4 separate regions of the Homo sapiens genome follow, and regions 2, 3 and 4 are each linked to region 1. Evidence: fine-mapped expression QTL. A gene starts in region 1. Each other region holds a variant in brackets. All regions are shown on one strand. Distances are between the middles of the regions. Region 1 holds the start of ZNF155 (zinc finger protein 155). Region 2 has its middle 13 kb from the start of ZNF235. Region 3 has its middle 12 kb from the start of ZNF222. Region 4 has its middle 7.4 kb from the start of ZNF227.

Region 1 (6,080 bases):
GTTTTCAACTATCAGGAAATAGTCATAAGGATGATAACAATGGGGGCTGGGCGCCGTGGCTCACACCTGTAATCTCAGCACTTTGGGAGGCCGAGGTGGGCGGATCACAAGGTCAGGAGATCGAGACCATCCTGGCTAACACAGTGAAACCTCGTCTCTACTAAATATACAAAAAAATAGCCGGGCATGGTGGCCGGCACCTGTAGTCCCAGCTACTCAGGAGGCTGGGGCAGGAGAATGGTGTGAACCCGGGAGGCGGAGCTCACAGTGAGCCGAGATCGCACCACTGCACTCCAGCCTAGGTGACAGAGCGAGACTCCGTCTAAAAAAAAAAAAAAAAAAACACAAATGGGAATAATATTGGATGAGCATGACATAATATGGCAGTTTACTAGTTTATTCTCTATTAGCAGTATTTAAAAATTTCCATAGTTAAAGAAATATGGGAAAACACATTAAGATATTATAACAATTTTTTTAAATGCTTATAAATAAATATACAATAGACACAGAGAAAGACTAAAAAGAAACGGAGGAGAACTGGAAGTTCCATCTCTTGTATCAGACAGTTAGCACCTTCACATCTTGGATTCATGGGTAATTTAAAACATGTTTTCTCCTCCTATTAATCTAATTTTAAAATGCTCCACAATGATATGGTTCCACAATACAAAATCCTTATAAAAAGTGAAACAGGATGTTGACAAATTTTTAAAAGACTCCTACAGAAGTCCAAGTCTATGAGCCTTGCTCTCAAGGTCCCTTCAATCAAGTCCTAACTCTCTTTCCCCACCTGATTCCAGCTAGTTCCTCTACCTCAATGAAAATGTATCCAAGGGATGATCAACTCAGGCTCTGACCCAAACTGCCTAGGTTCCAGCTCCAGCTGTACCTCATTCTACTGGGAACTAAGCACCAGGTGTCTCACTCCCATATTTAAAATGGAAAAGAGCGACCGGGCGCGGTGGCTCACGCCTGTAATCCCAGCATTTTCGGAGGCCAAGGCGGTCGGATCACGAGGTCAGGAGTTTCAGACCAGCCTGACCAAAACGGTGAAACCCCATCTTTACTAAAAATACAAAAATTAGCTGGGCGTGGTGGTGCGCACCTGTAATCCCAGCTACTTAGGAGGCTGAAGCAGGAGAATCGCCTGAACCTGGGAGGCGGCCTATTGCACTGAGCCCAGATCGCGCCACTGCACTCTAGCCTGGGCGACAGAGCGAGACTCCGTCTCAGGAAAAAAAAAAAAAAAAAAAAAAGAAAAAGAGCAATACCTTTCCACAGAGCCATGGTGTGGCGTAAATGTATTTATTTCCATAAAGCCCTTAGAATTAAGTTACCAATTAAGGTTTAATTATTATCAACACCCATGCCCAAGGACACATCCTATACACTCTTGGTTGAGGTGAACATCTCTGTAAAAGAAAAAACCGGCCCGGCGCGGTGGCTCACACCTGTAATTCCAGCACTTTGGGAGGCCGAGGCAGGCGGATCACTTAGGACCACAGGTTCGAGACCAGCCTGGCCAACATGGTGAAACCCCGTCTCTACTAAAAATACAAAAATTAGCCGGGCATGGTGACGCATGCCTGTAATCCCAGCTACTCCGGAGCTGAGGACAGAGAATCGCTTGAACCCAGGAGGCGGAGGTTGCAGTGAGCCAAGATCGCGCCACTGCTGCACTCCAGCCTGGGAGACAGAGCAAACCTCATTCTCAAATAATAACAATAATAAAAACAGACTAACAAAATAAATAACTTTTTTTTAAAAAGAGAAAAGCCAAAGACCACTCGTGTAGACAGCTTTGTCCTCAGTAGCCAAGTCCCTCCCTGCAGCTCTTTTAGAAAAGTCAGGCTGGGGAAGGAGAAAGCTGTCAAACACTCTGCGTCGCCGTCCCGGATACAAGTTAAATGCTCCTCTCCCTTCGTGAAACGTGGATGCAACCCACGCCTTCCTAAAAAGAGGTCAGAGGCGTCCGGGATCATCCAGAGCCCTGCCGGGCTCCAAGAGAAGGGCCGGAGCAGCTGGAGCTCTGACCCCACCCGGGCACCTGACCACTTCGCGGGAAATTAACAGGACACCAAGTGACAGGAGCTGTTAAGTCTTTGTTTTATACCACAACTTTCAACTCCTAAAACAATTCTATCAGGATGGTCCTGAAATCCTCATTTAAAAAACGGCAATGGGAGGTACAGGGAGATTAAGTAACACCCCACGTTATATCGCGAGAAAGAGGTCGCACACTTAAGAGTGGAGGGAGGCGGACTGAACGAGGTCAAACACCTGGAAAACCCTCTAAACAGGCACACAAGACTAGACAGAGTTCTTCCCCGCCCCCCCCGAACCCCCGACGACTCCTCCGGTGGACCTGAGTACAGCCCCCAACGCCAGAAGGCTCCATCGACGGCAACGAAACTTCCCTCCCACCCCTCGCATCTCCAAACCTCAGGTCTTCTCCAGGGCTTCTTACCCCCTTAGTTGACCCCCCAGGTCGTTAGGCGCCCCTAATAACTGGTTCACTTTCGCAAAGACCCGCAAGACACATACTTGGCTCAAACCACCTTGTTAAGTAGCAGTGTCCTGCTCGGAGACCGGAAGTGTCGATGATGCCACAGGCGTCTGGACTACACTTCCCAGAATCCCCCGAATCCGCCTGCCTGAGCCAAAGTTCCCACGACTCCACAGAGCAAATGGACTCCACTTCCCAGAATTCACAGGTCCTCCTGCCTGGGCCAAAATTCCCACGCCTCCCAAGCTACTCGCGAAACGCCTGCGGGAGCCAAATTTCCTGCGCATCGACCGGGCAATTAGACTCCCGCAGGCGTTTCGCTGGTATCTTGGGAAATGGAGTCCATTTGCTCTGTGGAGGCGTGAGAATTTTGGCTCAGGCAGGTGGACCTGTGAATTCTGGCCTATCAACCTATATTTTTATTTTAAAAAAATGGAGTCTCATGTTCTATATCAATTTTTCTAAACTAAAAAAGAATACTTTTCATGGTTTTCTTTAGATAAAGTGACTGTGCCAACCACAGTATGAGGAACACTTCTCTGAAAATTGAGTGACTGCTATTTCTAAACCAGTTACAGCTGTATCCTTGCTCTGTTCTGCCCTCCCAAGAGATAAAAATTTATTGACACGCTCAATCGTAGTAGGCAGGAAACTGTGCCTAATATATTAGGGTATATCTGGCATCAAAGGCCCTTTCTGTCCCCCAGGTCCTTGCACTCTGGGCCTGTGATGGGAGGAGAAGCTGCCATAATCTGTGAAATGCCTTTGGGGTCATTCTTCCATTGTCTTGGACAATAGGTCCTGGCTTCAGTTGACATGGCCAATCCATACTAAATTCATGAATTAGTTAGTTGCTTAACCATACCCTTGTATTCTTCAGGTTTCCTGTTTTTTTTTTTTTCCAAAGTAGATAGGCTGTAAACTTTTAAAAATTTTAGTTCTGTTTCCCTTTTAATTAATAATTATTTCAGTCATTCCTCACTTCGTGCCTTTCACTACGGGTAGTCAAGATGATTCAAGCAACTTCAACACTTTGATTAGAAATTAATTCAGATAAACAATTATATCATTCACAAATTCTACCTTCCATAAAACACTAGCACCTGAATATAATTCAGCCAAATTCTTTGTCCCTTTATAACAAGAAGCTCTCTTCTCTTCCAATAACATGTTCAACATTTCTGACTGAGGTCTTCAGAATGGCCTTTACTGTCCATATTTCTACCAACATTCTGATCATGACTACCTAGGTATGCTCTAACAAGATTGATGTTTTCTCTACAGTTCTTATTCTCTATTTCTGAGCGCTAACCAGAATTGTCCTTATCAGTCCATTCATGGCAATGTAGGCTTTTCCTAGCATACATGTAAAAACTCTTCTAGACTCTATCCATTACATAGTTCCAAAGACTGCTACATTTTTAGGTATTTGTTGCAGCAGCAAGCCCACCTCTCAGTACCAATATTTTTTAGTCACAAAATATCATAGCCTGCCTGGCTTTTATTTTATTTTATTTTATTTTATTTTATTTTATTTTATTTTATTTTATTTTATTTTTGAGACGGAGTCTTGCTCTGTCGCCCAGGCTAGAGTGCAGTGGCGCGATCTCGGCTCACTGCAAGCTCTGCCTCCCAGGTTCATGCCATTCTTCTGTCTCAGCCTCCCGAGTAGCTGGGACTACAGGTGCTCGCCACCATGCCCGGCTAATTTTTTTGTATTTTTGGTAGAGAAGAGGTTTCACCGTGTTAGCCAGGATGGTCTCGATCTGACCTTGTGATCCGCCCACCTCGGCCTCCCAAAGTGCTGGGATTACAGGCGTGAGCGACCACGCCCGGCCGGCTTTTAAGCAACAGAAATCTATTCTTCACAGATCTGGAAACTGGGATCCAAGATCAAAGCACTGGCAGATTTTGTGTCAGGTAGTTGGCCACTTTCTTGTTCATAGTTAGCACCATATTGCTGTGTCTTCATTTGGTTGAAGTGACAAACAAGCTCCTTCTGGCATTTTTTATAAGGGTATTCATCCCGTGACCTAATCACCCTCCAAAGGCCCCACCTCCTATTACCATCACATTGAGGGTAAAAATTACAATATATGGATTTTGGTGGGCCACAAACATTAAGACCATTGCATACGCATCATGCAGTGTCAGAGTTACTAATTCATATCATTGTAAAAAACAATGCAAAAGTAGAGTTCAACATTTTTTATAGTTCTTTTTGTCTTTAGACTGAGGATATATAGTCAAACACTGTACTGTTTAATAAGTTGCTTAAATTACTTCTTGCTGTCACCTTTAGACTGTTTATGTTATTGATTTGAAATACATTTAGGTTAATTTGTTATTCTATGATTTTCACTTTCCTAGTTTATCTACAAAGAAATCTCATTCTTGATTTTATATTATTGGGTATGTCAGTCATCAACATGTTCCCATGAGTCAATGCTCTACCACATATTATTCTCAGAGAAGTGCCACTCCCCTCCTTCCTACCCCTAAACCAATTCCACAGTGTTGCCACCTAACACCTTTATGTAACTAATTTTATTATTTTCATTACCACTTTTTTTTAACAGAATAGATGTGTTTCTTATTTTTCCTTTTTACTTAAATGTTAGGATAGTACACTTCTAATTCTTCTATATTCACATAATAACATCTTGGAAATCATGTCATATGGAGTAATTTATTTTTAAAACTGCATAAATTCCATTGAGTGGTTTATATAACAGTGCTGCAATTTATGGACATTTCAGTGACTTCCAATATTTTATTATTACAAATGATGCTGTTATAAATACACTTGTACATTTGTATATTATCCCTGTTGAAGATACATCAGAAGAGTACATCCCAGAAAGCAGGATTGAAAAGTGAAGATATTAATAGAAATTTTGTTGCATATTGTCAAGTTGCCTTAATTTTTTGGTACCATTTCCATTTGCAGAAGTAATGTATAAATATACTCTTGCCTTGAAACTAGCTAACAAAATGTGTTATTACAACATTTTTAAAGTTTTGCCAATCAAATGGTAAGAAGTGTATTTAAATTTAGTTTTAATTTATATTTCTTGTTTTTTAAATAACATAGAACATTTTTGCATATTTCCTGTGTCAATATTATTTTTCTTTTTGTAAATTGTTCAAATCTATTACCCATTTTTATGTTGAGTTTTTGGTCTGTTCGCCTCAATTTTTTTTTTTAGAACAAGGTCTTGCTATGTTGCCAAGGCTTGTCTTGAAGTCCTGGGCTCAAGCGATTCTCCCACCTCAGCCTTGTAAAGTGCTGATTTACTAACTAGGGCCAGCCAAAGGCTCAACCATCACTATCTTTCATTAACATTTTAATCACTTTTGGCTTTTCTGGGTCATAGGGTCCTGATGGCAGAGAAACTTACATAGCAGCTGGGACACATTGCACAGACTTATCTTGGATGAGTCAAAATGTTTTCAGGTCACACAAAATAGGCAAAGTAGCACGCCTCAATGAGGAATAAGTAGCATACAATAGCCCCAGTGGTCCACTAGGCGTTGTGACGCTATTTTTTGATCGTAGGAAGGGCTATAT
Region 2 (6,080 bases), 330 kb before region 1:
TTACAAAACAACCAGAAAACAAGCAACAAATGGCAGTAGTAAGTCCTTACTAATCAATAATAACACTGAATGTAAATTGACTCATCCTCTGATTAAAAGACATAAAGTGGCTGAATGGATAGAGAAACAAGACCCAACTATATGCTGCCTGCAAGAAACCCACTTCACCTGTAAAGACACACATAGTCTAAAAGTGAAGGGGTGGAAAAAGACATAGCTTGCAACAGGCAACGAAAAAAGAGCAGGAGTAGCTATACTTGTATAAGATACAATATAGACTACAAATCAAAGACTGTAAAAAAGACAAATAAGGTCACTATAAAATGATTAATGGGTCAATTCAGCAAGATGATATAACCATTATAAATATCTATGCATTCAACACCAGAACTCCGAAGTTTATAAAGCAAACATTAATAGATCGAAAATAAGAGATATATGGCAAAATAATAATAGTAGGAGACTTTGACATCCCACTCTCAGCAATGGACAGATCATCCAGACAGAAAATCAACAAAGAAACATTGAAGTTAGGTCACACACTAGACCTAATAGACATAACTGACATTTACAGATCATTTCACCCAATTGCTGCAGAATAGATGTTCTTTTCATCAGTACATGGAACATTGTCCAGAATAGACTATATCTTAGGCCACAAAACAAATCTCAACAAATTAAAAAAAAAAGAGAGATTATATTCAGTATCTTTTCTGACCACAGTATAATTAAACTAGAAATCAATAACAAAAAGGACATTGGAAGCTTCACAAACAACATGGAAATTAAACAGCATGCTCCTGAATGACCAGTGAGGCAATGAAGAAATTAAGAAGGAAATTTAAACATTTTTTGAAACAAAGAAAATAGAAATACAACATGGCAAAATCTATGGGATACAGCCAAAGCAAAACTTAGAGGTTTATAGCAACAAACATATATCAAAAAGGTAAAAAGATTTCAAATAACAACCTAATGATGCACCTCAAGGAACTAAAAAAGTAAGAACAAACCAAATCCAAAATTAGTAGAAGAAAATAAATAAAGATCAGAGCAGAAATAAATAAAATTGATAATGAAAGAAGAATACAGAAGATAAATGAAAGAAAAGTTGGGATTTTAAAAAGATAAACAGAAATCATCAAACCTTTGGCTAAACTAACCAAGAAAGAAAGAAGATCCAAGTAAATAACATCAGAAATGAAAAAGGAGACTTAACAACTGAGACCACAAAAATAAGAATCATTAGAAATAAGAATCATTAGAGACTGTGATGAACAATGATACACTTTGGAAAACCTAGAAGTAATGAATAAATTCCTGGACACATGCAATCGACCACAGTTGAACTATGAAGAAATAGAAAACCTCGATAAACCAGTAACAAATAATGAAATTGAAGCCATAATAAAAAGTCGCCTATCAAGGAAAAACTCATGACCTAATGGTTTCACTGCTAAATTCTACCAAACATTTAGAGAACTAATACCAATTCTACTCAAACTCTTCACAAAAATTGAAGAGAAGGGAATAATTCCAAATTTATTCTATGGGGCCAACAGTATCCTGATACCAAAACCAGAAAAGGACACAATGGAAAAAAAAACTGCAGGACATTATCACTGGTGAACATAGATGCAAAAATTTTCAACAAAATACTAGCAAACTGAATTCAGCAACATATTAAAAAGATCATTCACCAACATATTAAAAAGATCATTCACCATGATCAAATGGGATTCATCCCAAGGATGCAAGGATGATCCAGTATATGCAAATTGATAAGTGTGATACGTCACACTAACAGAACCAAGAAGAAAAACCATCTGATTATTTTGATAGATGCTAAAAATAAACATTCAATATAATTTAACATCCCTTTATGATAAAAATCCTCATCAAACTGGGTGTAGAAGGAACATACCTCAGAATAATAAAAGTTATATATGACAAGCCCACAGCTAACATTGTGCTGACAGGGAAGAATTGAAGGCCTTTCCTCTAAGATCTTGAAAAAGACAAGGATGCCTAATCTCACCACCTTTATTCAATATAGATAGTACTGGAAATCCTGCATAGAACAATTAGGTGGGAGGAACACTGAGAAAACTTTAGCACTCCAGTTCCCAGAGAAATTAAAGGGCATCCAAATTGGAAAGGAAGAAGTCAAATTAGTCTTGTTGACAGATGACATGTTATTAAAAATGGAAAATACTAAAGACTATCAAAAACCATTAGAACTGATAAGAAAATTGAGTAATGTTGCAGGATACAAAATAAACATAAAAAATCAGTATTATTTATATATGCCAACAGTGAACAATCTGAAATCAAGAAAGCAATCCCATTTACAATAGCTACAAAGAATATACAATACCTAAGAGTGAGTTTAACCAAAGTAGTGAAAGAACTATCCAAGGAAAACTCTAAAACACTGATGAAAGAAATTGAAAAGGACACAAAAAATAGATAGCCCATGCTCATGGATTGGAATAATTAATATTGTCAAAATGACAATATTACTCAATGCAATTTACAGATTCAATGAAATTCCTATGAAAATACTAATGACAGGCCAGGCACAGTGGCTCATGCCTGTAATCCCAGCACTTTGGGAGGCCAAGGCAGACCAATCACGAGGTCAGGAGATTGAGACCATCCTGGCTAACATGGTGAAACCCTGTCTCTACTAAAAAATGCAAAAAATTAGCCGGGCATGGTGGCGGGCACCTGTAGTCCCAGCTACTTGGGAGGCTGAGGCAGGAGAATAGCGTGAACCTGGGAGGCAGAGCTTGCAGTGAGCCAAGATTGCGCCACTGCACTGTAGCCTGGGCGACAGAGCAAGACTCCTTCTCAAGAAAAATAATAGTGATAAATTTAATTTAATTTAATTTAATTTAATTTAA[A/TTTAATTTAATTTAAA]AAAAGAAAATACTAATGACATTCTTCACTGAAATAGACAAAAACAATTCTAACATTTATATGGAACCACAGAAGATGCCATATAGCCAAAGGCAACTCTGAGCAAAAGTAAGAAAGCTGGAGGCAGCACACTATCTGACTTCAAAATATACTACAAAACAACAGCAACTGAAACAGCATAGTACTGGCATAAAAACAGACACATAGACCAATGGAAAAGAATAGAGAGCTCAAGTATAAATCCATGCATTTATAGTTAACTCATCTTTGACAAAGGCACCAAGAACATACAATGGAAGAAAGGTCAGTCTCTTCAATTAATAGTGCAGGGAAAACTGAATATATGCAAAAGAATGAAGCTAGACCCTTATCTCACCTTCACAAAAATCAGATCAAAATTGATTAAAGACTTAAATATAAGACCTAAAACTATAAAACTACTATTAATAGAAGAAAACATTGGGGAAATGATTCACAACATTGATATGGGCAAAGATTTCAGTAGCACCTCAAAAGCACAGGCAGCCAAAGTGAAAATTAACAAATTGGATTACATCAAGCTAAGAATCTTCTGCAGAGCAAGGGAAACAATTTAAAAAGTGAAGAGACAACCCACAGAATGGGAGAAAATATTTGCAAACTGACCATCTGACCAGGGATTAAGACCCAGAATATATAAGGAGCTCAAACAACTCAATAGCAAAAAAGCCAAATAATCAGATTTTTAATGGGCAACAGATCTGAATAGATGTTTTCAAAAGAAGACATACAAGTGACCAACAGGTATAAGGAAAAAAATGATCAATATCAGAGAAATCCAAATCAAAACCACAGTGAGATCTCATCTCACTCCAGTTAAAATTACTTTTATCAAAAATACAGGCAATAATGGATGATGGTGAGGGTGTGGCAAAAGGGGAATGCTTGTACACTGTTGGTGGGGATGTAAGTTGGTACAATCACTATGGAGAATAGTATGGAGGTTTCTTTAAAAACTAAAAATAGAACTACCATACAGTCCAGCAATTCCAGTACTGGGTATATATTCAAAGAAAGAAAATATATCAAAAAGACACCTGCAATCTCATGTTTATTGCAGCACTATGGACAATAGGCAAAATATGAAATCAACCTAACTGCCCATTAATGGATGAATTGTATATATGCACAATGGAATATTCTTCAGCCATAAAAAAGAATGAAATACCATCTTTCGCAGCAACATGGATGGAACCGGGAGTAATTATATTAAATGAAATAGGCCAAACACAGAAGGACAAATAACATATTCTCAATTATATATGGAAGCTAAAAAAAGTGGATCTCATGAAGATAGAGAGTAGATTGCTGGTTGCCAGAGGCTGGCAAGGGTAGTAGGGAGGAGGGATGAAGAGAAGTTGATTAATGGGTACAAAAATATGGTTTGATAGAAGAAATAAGACCTAGCAGTAGATTAGTAGGGTGACTATAGTTTACAGTAATCTATTGTATATTTCAAAATGGCTAGAAGAGAAGCATTAGAATGGTGCTAGCATAAAGAAAGGACACATATTTCAGGTGATGGATATTCCAAGTACACTGATTTGATTTTTACAAATTACATAAATGTATTAAATTATCATAAAAATAAGAAACAAAACAATAAACTGAGAAAAAAATTTAAATGACCTACAACCTAATTTTTAATGCCTGCATGGTATTCTTGTGTATTAATGTGTTATTTTTACTTAACCAATTTCTTACTATTGAAGGCCTGTTTACTGTTTTTCACTCTTCTAAACCACAATGCAATAAAAACCAGAGAAAAATAAGTTTCATCTCTTTATATTCATCATCTCCATAGAACATTTAAATGTGTGGTTGTTGAGTGAATAGACGTGTTTTAAATTTTATCTATATTGGCTCATTGTCCTGCCGAAAATGAAAATCCTCATATTCTCCAAGTCAAAAATAATGGATCACAACATCATGTGAGTAAAGTTTGTGATATGCCTGTCCTCTGTCTGCCAGAAGAAAACTTAGATCCTCTGAAGGAAGATTACATTATCTAGAGTCAACACCATTTTTTATACAAAATACCTGGCATTCAACAAAAATTAATGGGGCTTGCCAGAAAATTGGCCAAATGCCAAAACAAAAACAAAAGACAATATAAACATTCAAACTTGGGGAATGAGTAGATTCCTTAAGACTGCAGGCAAAAGAAACTGTACATAAGCATGATATTCTAATAGTTGAAACGGACTTCCAGATGATCCAGATATTGGAGTTAGCGGGCACAAACTTTAAAACAACTGATTAAAGAAAATAAATGAAAACTAAAAGTAATCACTTGGTTCTGTTTTTGAAAAGTTTATGCTTAGTGTGGCATTTAAAAGATCCATTTTTAAAAAATGGTTATATAAAAATTTAAAATCCTAGAAAGCTCAACACAATGACTGACATTAAGAATTTAACAGATGGGAGCCAGGCACGGTGGCTCACACCTGTAATCCCAGCACTTTGGGAGGCCAAGGCAGGCAGATCACGAGGTCAGGAGTTTGAGACCAGCCTGGCCAATATGGTGAAACCCCATCTCTACTAAAAATATTAAAAAATCAGCTGAGTGTGGTGGCTTGTGCCTGTAGTCCCAGCTACTAGGGAGGCTGAGGCAGGAGAATCGCTTGAACCTGGGAGGCGGAGGTTGCAGTGAACTGAGATCACGCCACTGCACTCCAGCCTGGTGACAGAGTGAGACTCCATCTCAAAAAAAAAATTAACAGATGGGATTAATAGCAGTTTAGATATGGCTAATATTTTGTCCTTATTTCTCACAGTTCTTAGTCTAGCTAAAGGCTTATGAACATTGCCATTTCAAAAAAAATCTTTCCATTTTATCCTCTGTATTGTTTTTATAGTTTCAATTTCATTTATTTCTGCTCTGATCTTTATTATTTCTTTCTTTTTACTAATTTTGGATTTGGTTTGTTTTGCTTTTTTAGTTCCCCTCACAGTCCTATAGCATTTTTAGCTCAGTAGAGTGGGAACTCCTTAAGAGTAAATATGGTGCTTTATACATTACAGGTGTACAGTAAATGTTTGCAAAGACAATGATGCCCTATAGAGGCCCAGAGTTAAGGTTTCAACAGAATTAAAAGTTACTTGTCTTACCATAAGTACTGCCAAAAACTAATA
Region 3 (6,080 bases), 54 kb before region 1:
CTCTCCTGACAAGAGATGCTGTGAGGACATAAGGGATTAAGAGAGCAAAAAGGTGATAGCCTCAGTGGATTGTAGGTATTGGCGAGGTACTAAGATTATCGATGCAAGTATGCTGATGGGACTCAGGTGGCAATACAGATGAAAGTTGTTGCGGACTAGTGCTGCAAATTATTACCGAAGAGTATTTTCTAGGAAATGACAATGTTTAGGTTATGACCATGGAAGAGAGCATCCCTTGATATTTCACATGAATCTTGGGTGGATTTTTCCATTTCTGAAAAAAAATCATTGTGATTACGTTAAGGATTGCAGTGAATCTGTAGACCATTTTAGGTGGTATTTACTGCCTTGTAATTTATCTCTCAACTCATTAATAATGGATATATCTCCATTTATTTGTGCCTCTTTTAATTTCCTTCAGTAATATGTTTCAGAGCTCAGTGTTCAAGTGCTTCTCTTGTCCTTGGTTATGACAGTTCCTAAGTAATTGTTTCTTTTTGATGCTATTGTCAAGATAAGTATTTTCCTTTCAGATTGTTTTTTTGTGCAGAAATACAAACTACTTCTTCTATACAGGTATTTTTCCAGCAACTTTTTGACTTTGTTAGCTCTAAGAGGTTTTTTTCTTGTGTATTCTGTAGAACTTATAAGAACATGTCATCAGCATGTAGACACAGTTTTATGTGTTTCCAATTTTAACAGGTTTATTTCCTTTTTCTACCTAATTGTTCTGCCTAGAACTTCCAATACTATGTTGACTAGAGGTGGAAAAGTGGAGCAAATTCATTGTGTTCCTGATATTAGAAAAAGAGCTTGCAGTCCTTCACTATTGAATAAGAAAATAAGCTCTTGAAATTTTCCACATCTAGCCTTTATTTTGTTGAGATAGTTTCTTTTCTTTTTAGTTGAGTGGTATTTTAATCATGAAAGTGTGAATTTTGTTAAATGAATTTTCTGCATTCACTGACATGATCATGTGGATTATATTTTTATATCTTTCAATCTGTTCATGCAGCATAATACATTAATATTTGTATGTTGAGTCATAAATTATATTTGCATTCCAGGAATAAATGTTTGGTCATTGAGTATAATCCTTTTAATATGCTGCTGAATTTTGCTGGTATTTTATGGTAGAGTCTTGCATCAGTATTCATATGGGATGTTGATGTATAATTTTCATGCAATGTCTTTGTCTGGTTTGGTACCATGGTAATCCTGGCCTCAGAGAAGGAACTAGGAAGTGTTCCCTCCTCTTGCCTATTTGGGAAGAGGTTGAGGAGTTATGGTGTTAAGTGTTCCTTAAATGTTTGGAATAATTCTTACTAAGTAAAATAAGGGTTACTAAAAATAAAAATAATTTTTTTTTTAAATGCAAGAATTAACCAGTGGAGCCACCTAATTTTGGGCTTTCTTTGTTGGGAGGCACTGGGTTACTGATTCAATCTCCTTACTAGTTAAGGATCTACTCAGATTTTCTGTCTTCATGATTCATTTTTGGTAGGGTATATGTTTTAAGAGATTTGTCTATTTTATCTAGGTTGTACAATTTGTTGGCATACAATTAAAGATAGTGCTCTGTTATAATCATTTTTATTTCTCTAAAATTTGCAGTAAAGTTCATATTTTTGTGTGTAAATTTTGCTTCTTGAGGCTTCTCTATTTTTTAGTCAATCTAACTATAGGTTTCTCAAGTTTCTTAATCTTCTGGAATAACCAACTCTTGGTTTGGTTAATTTTCTGTTTTTCTATTCTCCATTTGTCATTGCATTAATCGGTATTCTTTCTTTCCTTCTACTAGCTTTCTGGTTCAAATTCTTTGCCTTTTTGTAGTTCATGAATATAAAATTAGGTTGTGAATTTAAGATATTTCTTTCTTTAATATAAGCATTTACAGGTACAAATTTCCCACCTACTACTGCTTTTACCTCATCCAATAAATTTTGGCACGTTGTTTTTAATTTCAATGGTCTCCATATATTTTTTAAGTTCACTTCTAATTTACTCTGACATATAGGTTATTTAAGAATGTGTTTAGTCTCCACATACTTGTGAATTTTCACTTTTCTTGCTGCTATCATTTCTAGTTTTTGTGATCTAGATTGTAATTGGAAAAAATGTATTTTATTATATTAAAATTTAAAATTTATTAACACTTGATTCGTGGCCTAATATATAGCTATCCTGGAGAATATTCCATGTGCAAATGAGAAAATGTATATTCTGTTGTTGTTGTGTGGGTTATTCCGTATATGTGTTTTAGGTCAATTTTGTGTATAATATTCTTCAAATCCTCTATTTCCTTACTTATCTTTGTTTGTTTGTTTTTCTTACATATCTTTGGTCTGGCTATTTGCAAGTGAGGTATGAAGTGTCCTAGTACAGTTGACCCTTAGTATATGTGGGTATATCAAAATGCATACATACTCAAGTCTTGCGGTCAGCCCTGTAGAACCAATGTATATAAAAATTTGGCCCTTCATATATGTGGGTTTCACATCCCATGAATATTGTATTTTCAATCTGAGTTTGGTTGAAAAAAGTTCACACGTAAGTGTACCTATGCAGTTCAAATCCATGTGGCTCACAGTCAACTGTATTATTGGGTAGCTACTTCTCTCTTCAATTCTGTATTTGCTTCATATAATTAGGAGCTCTGATGTTTGGTGCACATATGTTTATAATTGTTATATCTTCTTGGTGAAATCATCCTTTTAGTAATATATAATGTTCTTCTTGGTCTCTTCTAACAATTTTTCACTTAAAGTCTAATTTAGCCCTTAGTAAAGCCACCGTTGCTCTCTTTTTATTACTATTTATATGGAATAACTTTTTCCATCCTTTCCGTTTCAATCTATGCACATCATTAGATTTAAGCATATCCCTTGTGCAGAGCATACACTTGGATACTGTTTTTTTCAATGGTTTTGCCAGTGAACATCTTTTGGTTGAGGAGTTTCACTCATTTACACTAAACTCATTATTTGTAGGAAAGGTCTTACCATTTTGTTATTTTTTAAATGTCTTACTGCCTTTTGCCCCTAATTTCCTCCATTACTGCCTTCCTTTAT[G/A]TTGAGTCCTTTTTCTGTAGTGATACATTTTGAAACTCTTCTCATTTCCCTTTGTGTGTCTCACTGATATGTTCTTTATTTGAAGAAACATAACATTCTACATGCTATGGTCTAAAGTTATAACCATCTATTTAAAATTGATACCAACTTAACTTCAGTCACATGCAAAAACGCTACTCCTTCACAACTTCTGCTTCCCTTCATGTTATGTGACTGGTATCATGTATTGCAACTATACATATTGTGTACCCATTCACATAGATTTACAATCATTTTAATGCATTTTCCTATTACATAGTGTACAAAATAAAAAGTGGAGTAAAAACTCAAATTACAAAAATAGTGAGTTTTACATCATTCATGTAATTTTATTTACTTTAGATATTTATGTTTTCATATGGTTTCAAGTTGCTGTCTAGCATCCTTTCACTTCAACTTGATGGCATCCCTTTATAACTTCTCATATAAATTGTCTTCCGGTAATGGACTCTCTTGGCTTTTGTTTCTTTAGAAAAGTATTAATTTATCTCTCATGTTTGAAGGATAGTTTTGCTGAATATTGATTTCTCAGTAGACAACTGTGTGTTTTTGGTTTTTTCAGCAGAGAATACATCATCTGTCTTCAGATGTTTGCTGAAAATCTGCTGACATCTTATTGAAGATTCTTTGTACATGACAAGTCATTTTGGACTTGCTGCTGTCAAAATTTTCATTTGTCTTTGTCCTCCAATAATTTTTAACAATATGTCTCAATTGGGTCTCTTTGATTTTATCTTATGTGAAATTCATTGAGCTTGGATTTACAGAATAATGTGTTCTTCATATTTGAGAAGTTTTCAGCCTTTATTTCTGTAAAGCTCTCTTTGACTTTTTCTGTCTCCTCCTAGGACACCTATAATGCATATATGGTGCCTTGGGTTTTGTGTATTTTTACTCATTTCTTTTTCTTTTTTTTTTTTTTTTTGCTTCTGAGACACAATAATTTCCTATGACTTATCTTCATGTTCACTCATTCTGATGGTACTGTAGCAGGAGTAGGAACAATGGGCCTTAGGGGCACTTACCTGTGGCTTCAGGACCCGCTCCAACCCAATCTCATATATACCACTTCCAAGTGGAATACCAATGTGCACATACAATTTAAAGATATGGAGTGGCCAACTACACCCAATTCATAATGGAAACCTTGGCTCACATGCTAATTTGGTAGCCCATGGTTAAGTGCTCTGTCTTTACTAAGTGGGAGGACTGCTTGATGCCAGGAGTTCAAGACCAGCCTGGGCAACAAAGTGAGACCCCATCTGTACAAAAAAAAAAAAAAGAGAGAGAGAGAGTAAACATACGTAGAGGATTTCAGGGCTTCGCTACAAAATTCTATGTGTTTGTGCTTTGATTCATCAGTTGTGGCCAGCCACTCTCTCCAAACATCACTATCTGTTTCTGATATTTCAGTCACTTGTGGGTCTCCTGGATCATAGGACCCTAGTGGAAGAGAAGCTTATATGACAGCTGGCACATATTGCACAACCTTGTCTCAACTGAGGCAAAATGATTTCAGGTCACTCATAAAAAGCAGAGTAGTACACCACAGTGAAGAATAAGTAGCCTCCAACAGCTGAGCAGGGCCACTGGGCATTGGGACACTTTTTTTGGTTTTAGGAAGCATCACATGCTACTTGCCCTACACCTTAGATTAGAAAGAATATCTTTATTTATTTTTTTGAGACAGTCTCACTCTGTCACCGAGACCGGAGTGCAGTGGTGCAATCTTGGCTCACTGCAATCTCCGCCTCTTGGGTTCAAGTGATTCTCCTTTCTCAGGTTCCCAAAGAGCTGGGATTACTGGCACCCACCACCATGCCCAGTTAATTTTTGTATTTTTAGTAAAGATGGGGTTTCATCATGTTGGCCAGGCTGGTCTTAAACTCCTTACCTCAAGTGATCTCCCGCCTTGGCCTCCCAAAGTGCTGGGATTACAGGCATGACCACCACGCTTGTCCTAGAAGGAATATCTCAATAGTTTTGCATCAGTGAACTCATGGAAATTTCACTGAGGTGGAAGTCCTATGAATATTTATAGGACTTATTCTGTCCTTCTGATATGCATGTGTCTTACAAACATGTCTAGATTACTTTCTACTTTTTTCTCACCAGGTCCAATCATCACATTAATGTGCCATTTGACAATAAGGATTCAGTCATTGTCAAAAAGAGTGATTATTTCTCCTTTTGAGTACATAGTCACACAGGTTCATGGCCATAGTTTCCTGTGGAGAACTCTGAAATGTGGTAGGATCTATTCTCATCCAGTATTGGCCTCCCTTTCATGTAAATGAATGTGGATTTGTAAACTGGACATGTCTTGGATTTGATTTTGGGGCTGTGACTCTGTTAGGTGATTCCAGTCACCCTTTTCTTCACTTGCAGTAGAACTCTTCTGAGTTCTATTGACAGAGTAGAGACAGGGCTTGGCTTCAGTTCACCCCGACTAGAGCGTTCTTTCATGCATTCCCAATGATCACAAAACCCACACCTCTACCTCACTGCTAAGAATTCCAGGAACTGGCCTTGGGTGATAACCAAAGTTGTAGAGTGTCTCCCTTCAGGATGAAATGCTAAACAATTGATTTACAGCCTTGTTGCCACCACCCAGACCACCAGGTGGCCCAGTACACAAGATAAGCATTGCAACCAGGTAATGCTGACCTGCATGCCCTACCAGTCATGTGCTTTTCCCAGCCCAGCCTTCAAACCCTATCCCTGATGTTAATTCCCACGCTTTGCCAAATAAACAATCCTATGAGCTCTTTGAAGGGAGTCAGGAAATTCTCTCTTGTGCCGCCTTCCTTATGTCCAGGCATAAGCTCCAGTGAAGGCTTGTCTGGGAAAACCCTTTCAGTCTCATTTCAATTTCTATTGCAGAGCCCAGGAACCTGTGGTTGGTGGCATATTCTTTGGGGATTTGTCTAGGATCATGGGACATGGGGGGCCTTTCTCTCCCTGAGGGGT
Region 4 (6,080 bases), 220 kb before region 1:
AAAGTAGAATTGTATAAAAAGTTTAAAACTGCTTGACTGTACACATAGGGCGGAATTTTTTAATAATATTTTTCTTTAGATTGCCTACAATACTATACAGTGGTTGTCCTTATTCAGTAATAAGACAGCTTTCTTTTCTACATTGTGTGGAGAGGTCTATTATCTTCGTCTCTCTGTTAGAACATAAGTGGTACCTACCACATAACGGTATTTTGGACATTTAATGAATAATTCGTATAAAAGTACAAGGACCTCCTACTAATGACTCTACTTCAGGAATGAGGAGAATGGGATAGAGAAAGATTAAGATTAACTCACAAAACGTTATAACACTAGTAAGTGGCAGAGCTGGCAAGTAGGTGGGAGAGGCTGGCTGCGGAACGCCAGGAGACCCTCTAACCAAGCGACAACCGATCCAGGACGCTCCCAACCCGGGGACGCAAGAACTGCTCCAAACGTGAGGCTCAGCCGAGAGGAAAGAACACAAACTGCTCCCAACTCCAGCCTCCCAGCTGGCCACAGCTTCTCTAGCCTTCCTCCAGACGAGGGCCAGGGCCCCGCTTGCTCCCTGACGAGGCTGAGAAAACTTGGAGGGTCCCAGCGGATCCAAACACTTGTTTTCGCCCTCCTAGAGCGAAAAAACTTCCCAGCAACTAAAGAGAAACCCCGGATCACTTCCCACAATTCCCTAGCTCCGCCATCCAAAAGCGGAAGTGCCCCAGGCTACGCGGGCCCCTGACTACACTTCCCAGAATGCCCCAGGGGAAACCGGCCATAGTTCCGCTCCTTGGAGCGGAAATACTTCCGAGTAACCTGAGCTTCCGGGTATCCTAGAAAGCCAGAGCAAATCTTAGCCAAGATTTGCAATTTTAGAGTGGAAGTGTCTGTCTTGGTGGTACCTACCGATTCTGTTGTTCAAGGGCCTTGGGGAAGAAGTTGGGGATCGGGAGAAGGGTACCTAGTAAAACCCAAAGAGCTGCACTACAGGAGTAAAGATAAAGGGCAAATAGATCATCTTCACTAGGGGACTGAAGCAAAACTTGAAATCACATTCGTACCTGAAAATAGATTAAAGTAAACCTTTTCTGTTAGTGTTTGCAGGTACCTGACATAAACAAAAATATTCTAATGGAGAAAGAGACTATCGTCCTAGGCCTCATATTCTTTCTCTAATTTTAAAATATATTAATATTGGACAAAGTACAATAGTCCTTGAAGAAAAGAACATTTTAAGATATACAAAGAAACACTTCATAGTAATGAAAATTTTCTATCAACTATAACAGCCTTACATAATGTAAAGCAAACTTTATAAAGAAAAATTGATTGACAGACTCATAAGGAGAAAAACACTGATAAACAGGAGAGCTTTTAATACATGATTAGAAGGAAACATAGAAAGCCTTGAAATCATATACAGGTCCTGGAGTTAACAATGGTTCACTTAAGATTTTTCGACTTCATGATGGTGTGAAAGCAACACACATTCAGTACAGTACCTATACAACCCTTCTGTTTTTCCCTTTCAATACCTATTCAATAAATTATATGATATTCAACACTTTATTATGAAATAAGCTTCTTTTTGCTAGATAACGTTGCCCTTGGATCACCTGAGGTCAGGAGTTTGAGACCACCCTGGAGAATATGGCAAAACCCTGTCTCTACTAAAACTATGAAAATTAGTCGGGCGTGGTGGTGCGCACCTGTAGTCCCAGCTACTCTGGAGGCTGAGGCAAGAGAATCACCTGAACCTGCGAGGCGGCGGTTGCAGTGAGCCAAGATCGAGCCATTGCACTCCAGCCTGGGCGAGAGAGCGAGACTCCCTCTCAAAACAAAACAAAACAAAAAACCTTGCCCAACTGGGGGCTAATATAAACGTCATGAGCACCTTTAAGGCAGGCTAGCCTAAGCTATGATGTTTGGTAGATTGGGTGTATTAAATGCATTTTCGACTTAGGATACTTTCAACTTACGGTAGGTAAGTTCATCAGAATGTGAGCCCACTGTAAGTTGAGGAGCATCTGTCCTAAAACAGGAGAAAAGCTGAACAAAAAAATAAAAACATTTATCTCAGGAATTCAATAAACAAATACCAAAACCACAGTGGGTAGATGGAAAGAAATGATCAAGATAATAGGAAATACATGAAATAGAAAACGAAATGGAGTGGATCTTAAAAAGTAAAATGATCATTCTATAAATAGAACAATAAAACTGACAAAGTCCAGTGACAGTAAACAAAAAAGACAGAAATGACATATTACCAGTTTCAGAAGTAAAAGGGAAC[A/C]TCACTAAATATATTGAGAATATTATGAGGAACATTATGATGATACATTTAAGAAATATAAATTCCCACTTAAAACTAAAATGAACATACACAACAATTAACAAAATGTTGAAAATTTATCTCTGAGAATGAGAATGGGAAGAAAATGCTGAATATCACCACTTCTAATCAAATTGTACTGAAGCTTATATCTAGCAACTTGGTCAAAATAATTTTATTATTTATTTATTCCTTTCTTTTCCCTATGGAACACTTTCATTTCCTCCCCCAGCCCCATATTTTGTTTGTTGTGTTTCTCTTTGTGTGTGTTTTGTGCAAAGTGCATGTGATGTGGTTGTGTGTGCACACTTTTAGTTTATATAAGTGGTATTATGTCATAAAAATAAATGTTAAGACTTTCAAAACTCAGCAGTATGTTTTAAAGATTCATCCATGTTTCTAGCATACATTAACCTATTTTATAGAACTAATTGTTTACACCCAAAATATTTTACTATTCCATGACAGAAACCTGGATTGCCATTGGCAATAACAATGCTAGGAACATCACTATACATCTTCATAGAAATGTGTGACAATTTATTTAGGACACATATCCATAAGTGTAGTTGTTGGTTCATAGCAGAGTCATATACTTACACATTTACAAATAATATTAATAGCTATATTGCTCTCCTGAATGGTTAAACCATTCCACATTCTCATGAGCACTGAATACAGTTTGTTGTATAACCACCCATTTCCATACCATCATTTGCCATGAACCATCATCCTATGTCTTGCCACTCCATTAAACACATACTGGTATTTCACTGTTTTAATCAAATTTCTCTGATTTTTAATAAGTTTGAGCATTTCTTCAAAATACTTTACAGCCTATTCTGTAAACTGTATATTTATGCCCTTTTCTTCTGTTATGGGTGCTATATTTTCCTTGTTCACTTGGATTATATACCACGAATATTAATACCTTATGCATTTGAGACACAGCAATACCTACTATTTGGTATTTTTTGATATTTCTTTTTTTGATGTATTGATTGTTTTTTATTAAATTTTTTTAATTTATTTATTTTTATTTTTATTTTTTTTTAGTATTTATTGATCATTCTTGGGTGTTTCTCCGAGAGGGGGATTTGGCAGGGTCATAGGACAATAGTGGAGGGAAGGTCAGCAGATAAACATGTGAACAAAGGTCTCTGGTTTTCCTAGGCAGAGGGCCCTGCCGCCTTCCGCAGTGTTTGTGTCCCTGGGTACTTGAGATTAGGGAGTGGTGATGACTCTTAACGAGCATGCTGCCTTCAAGCATCTGTTTCACAAAGCACATCTTGCACTGCCCTTAATCCATTTAACCCTTAGTGGACACAGCACATGTTTCAGAGAGCAGGGGGTTGGGGGCAAGGTTATAGATTAACAGCATCCCAAGGCAGAAGAATTTTTCTTAGTACAGAACAAAATGGAGTCTCCTATGTCTACTTCTTTCCACACAGACACAGTAACAACCCGATCTCTCTTTCTTTTCCCCACACTTCCCCCCTTTCTATTCAACAAAACCGCCATCGTCATCATGGCCCGTTCTCAATGAGCTGTTGGGTACACCTCCCAGACGGGGTGGCGGCCGGGCAGAGGGGCTCCTCACTTCCCAGACGGGGCGGCGGGGCAGAGGCGCCCCCCCCACCTCCCGGACAGGGTGGCTGGCCGGGCGGGGGCTGCCCCCCACCTCCCGGACGGGGTGGCTGCCGGGCGGAGATGCTCCTCACTTCCCAGACAGGGCGGCTGCCGGGCGGAGAGGCTCCTCACTTCCCAGATGGGGCGGCTGCCGGGCGGAGGGGCTCCTCACTTCTCAGACGGGATGGCGGGTCAGAGACGCTCCTCACCTCCCAGACAGGGTGGCAGCGGGGCAGAGACACTCCTCAGTTCCCAGACGGGGTCGCAGCCGGGCAGAGGCGCTCCTCACATCCCAGACGGGGCGGCGGGGCAGAGGCGCTCCCCACACCCCAGATGATGGGCGGCCCGGCAGAGACACTCCTCACTTCCTAGACGGGATGACGGCAGGGAAGAGGCGCTCCTCACTTCCTAGACTGGGCAGCCGGGCAGAGAGGCTCCTCACATCCCAGACAATGGGCGGCCAGGCAGAGACGCTCCTCACTTCCTAGATGGGGTGGCGGCCAGGCAGAGGCTGCAATCTCGGCACTTTGGGAGGCCAAGGCAGGTGGCTGGGAGGTGGAGGTTGTAGCGAGCCAAGATCACGCCACTGCACTCCAGCCTGGGCAACATTGAGCACTGAGTGAGCGAGACTCCGTCTGCAATCCCAGCACCTCGGGAGGCCGAGGCTGGCAGATCACTCGTGGTCAGGAGCTGGAGACCAGGGGGGCCAACAGGGGGAAACCCCGTCTCCACCAAAAAATACAAAAACCAGTCAGGCGTGGCGGCGCACGCCTGCAATCCCAGGCACTCGGCAGGCTGAGGCAGGAGAATCAGGCAGGGAAGTTGCAGTGAGCAGAGATGGCGGCAGTACAGTCCAGCCTCGTATCAGCTCGGCATGGGAGGGAGACCGTGCAAAGGGGAGAGGGAGAGGGGGAGAGGGGGAGGGGAGAGGGAGGGGGGAGAGGGGGAGGGAAGAGAGGGAGAGAGGGAGAGGGAGAGGGAGAGGGAGAGCTATTTTTTGATATTTCTTATAGAAACTTTATTGAGATATAATGGATACAGTTTACCCATTTAAAGAGCACAGTTAAATGAATTTTATTATATCCAGAGAGTTGTGCAACTATCACTGCAATCAATTTTTAGGACATTTACATAATCTCAAAAAGATACCTGATACCCATTAACAGTCACTTCCAATTTTTCCCAAACTCCTCAGCCCTAGGCAATCACTAATCTACTTTCTGTAGATGTACATATTTTGAACATTTTCTGTCAGTGTACTCACACAATACGTGGTCTTTTGAAACGAACTTTACTTAGCATAACATGTTGAAGGGTCATCCATGTTGGTGCATGAACCAGTTATTCATTTCTTTTCATGGCTACATAATGTGCCATTGGATGAATACATCACATCTTATTTATTCATTAATGGCTATTTTGGATTGTTTCTACTTTTGGCTATTATTAATAATGTTGTTTTGAACATTTATGTACAAGCTTATGTGTAGGCATAAGTTTTAATTTCTCTTGGTTGTATATCTAGGAGTGGAATGCTGAGTCATATAATAACTCTATGTTTAAACCCTTGGGAAACTGCCAGACTGTTTGCCAAATAAATTGCACCATTTTACATTCCCACCAACAATGTATGAGGGTTCCAATTTCTCCACTCCCTTGGCAACCCTTTTATTATCTGTCTTTTTTACTGTAGCCAATCTGGTGGCTAAGCAATATCTCATTGTTGTTTTGATTTCCGTTTCCCTAATGACTTATGACATTGACCATCTTTTCATGTGCCTATTGGGCATTTATATGTCTTCTTTTGAAAAATGTCTATTCAGATACTTTGGCCCATTGTTTAATTGGGTTATTTGTCTTTCTAAAGTGTTGAATTGTAAGAGTTATTTATGTATTCTAGCTACAAGTCTCATCAGATATATGATTTACAAATACGTTCACCCATGTTGGTGTCTTCACTTTCTCGATGGTATCCACTGATACACAAAAGTTTTTCATTTTGATGAGTTCCAATTCATTCATTTATTTTTTGTTGTTCCTTGTGCTTTTGATGTCATATCTAAGAAACCATTGCCTATTTCAAGGTCATGAAGATTTATATCTATGATTTCATCTAGTTGTT

Evidence for each region. PIP is the estimated chance that this variant, and not a neighbour inherited with it, causes the effect.
Region 2: its variant is fine-mapped to the expression of ZNF155 in vagina (GTEx, PIP 0.98).
Region 3: its variant is fine-mapped to the expression of ZNF155 in whole blood (INTERVAL, PIP above 0.99).
Region 4: its variant is fine-mapped to the expression of ZNF155 in whole blood (INTERVAL, PIP 0.92).

What each region holds. Positions count from the first base shown.
Region 1 is chr19:43,980,713-43,986,792 of GRCh38, reverse strand. It overlaps ZNF155 (zinc finger protein 155), which reads right to left and starts at 2,605. Exons shown (of 5, transcript NM_198089.3): 1 at 2,548-2,605. It also overlaps a transcript of ZNF221 not described here. RefSeq lists a silencer at 2,709-2,908.
Region 2 is chr19:44,315,034-44,321,113 of GRCh38, reverse strand. No RefSeq gene overlaps it. Among named protein-coding and RNA genes, the nearest start is that of ZNF235, 13 kb to the right of the region's middle. The variant A/TTTAATTTAATTTAAA (reference allele first, on the strand shown) is at 2,907.
Region 3 is chr19:44,034,772-44,040,851 of GRCh38, reverse strand. No RefSeq gene overlaps it. Among named protein-coding and RNA genes, the nearest start is that of ZNF222, 12 kb to the right of the region's middle. The variant G/A (reference allele first, on the strand shown) is at 3,072.
Region 4 is chr19:44,202,122-44,208,201 of GRCh38, reverse strand. It overlaps a transcript of ZNF227 not described here. Among named protein-coding and RNA genes, the nearest start is that of ZNF227, 7.4 kb to the left of the region's middle. RefSeq lists enhancers at 374-423, 434-533. The variant A/C (reference allele first, on the strand shown) is at 2,291.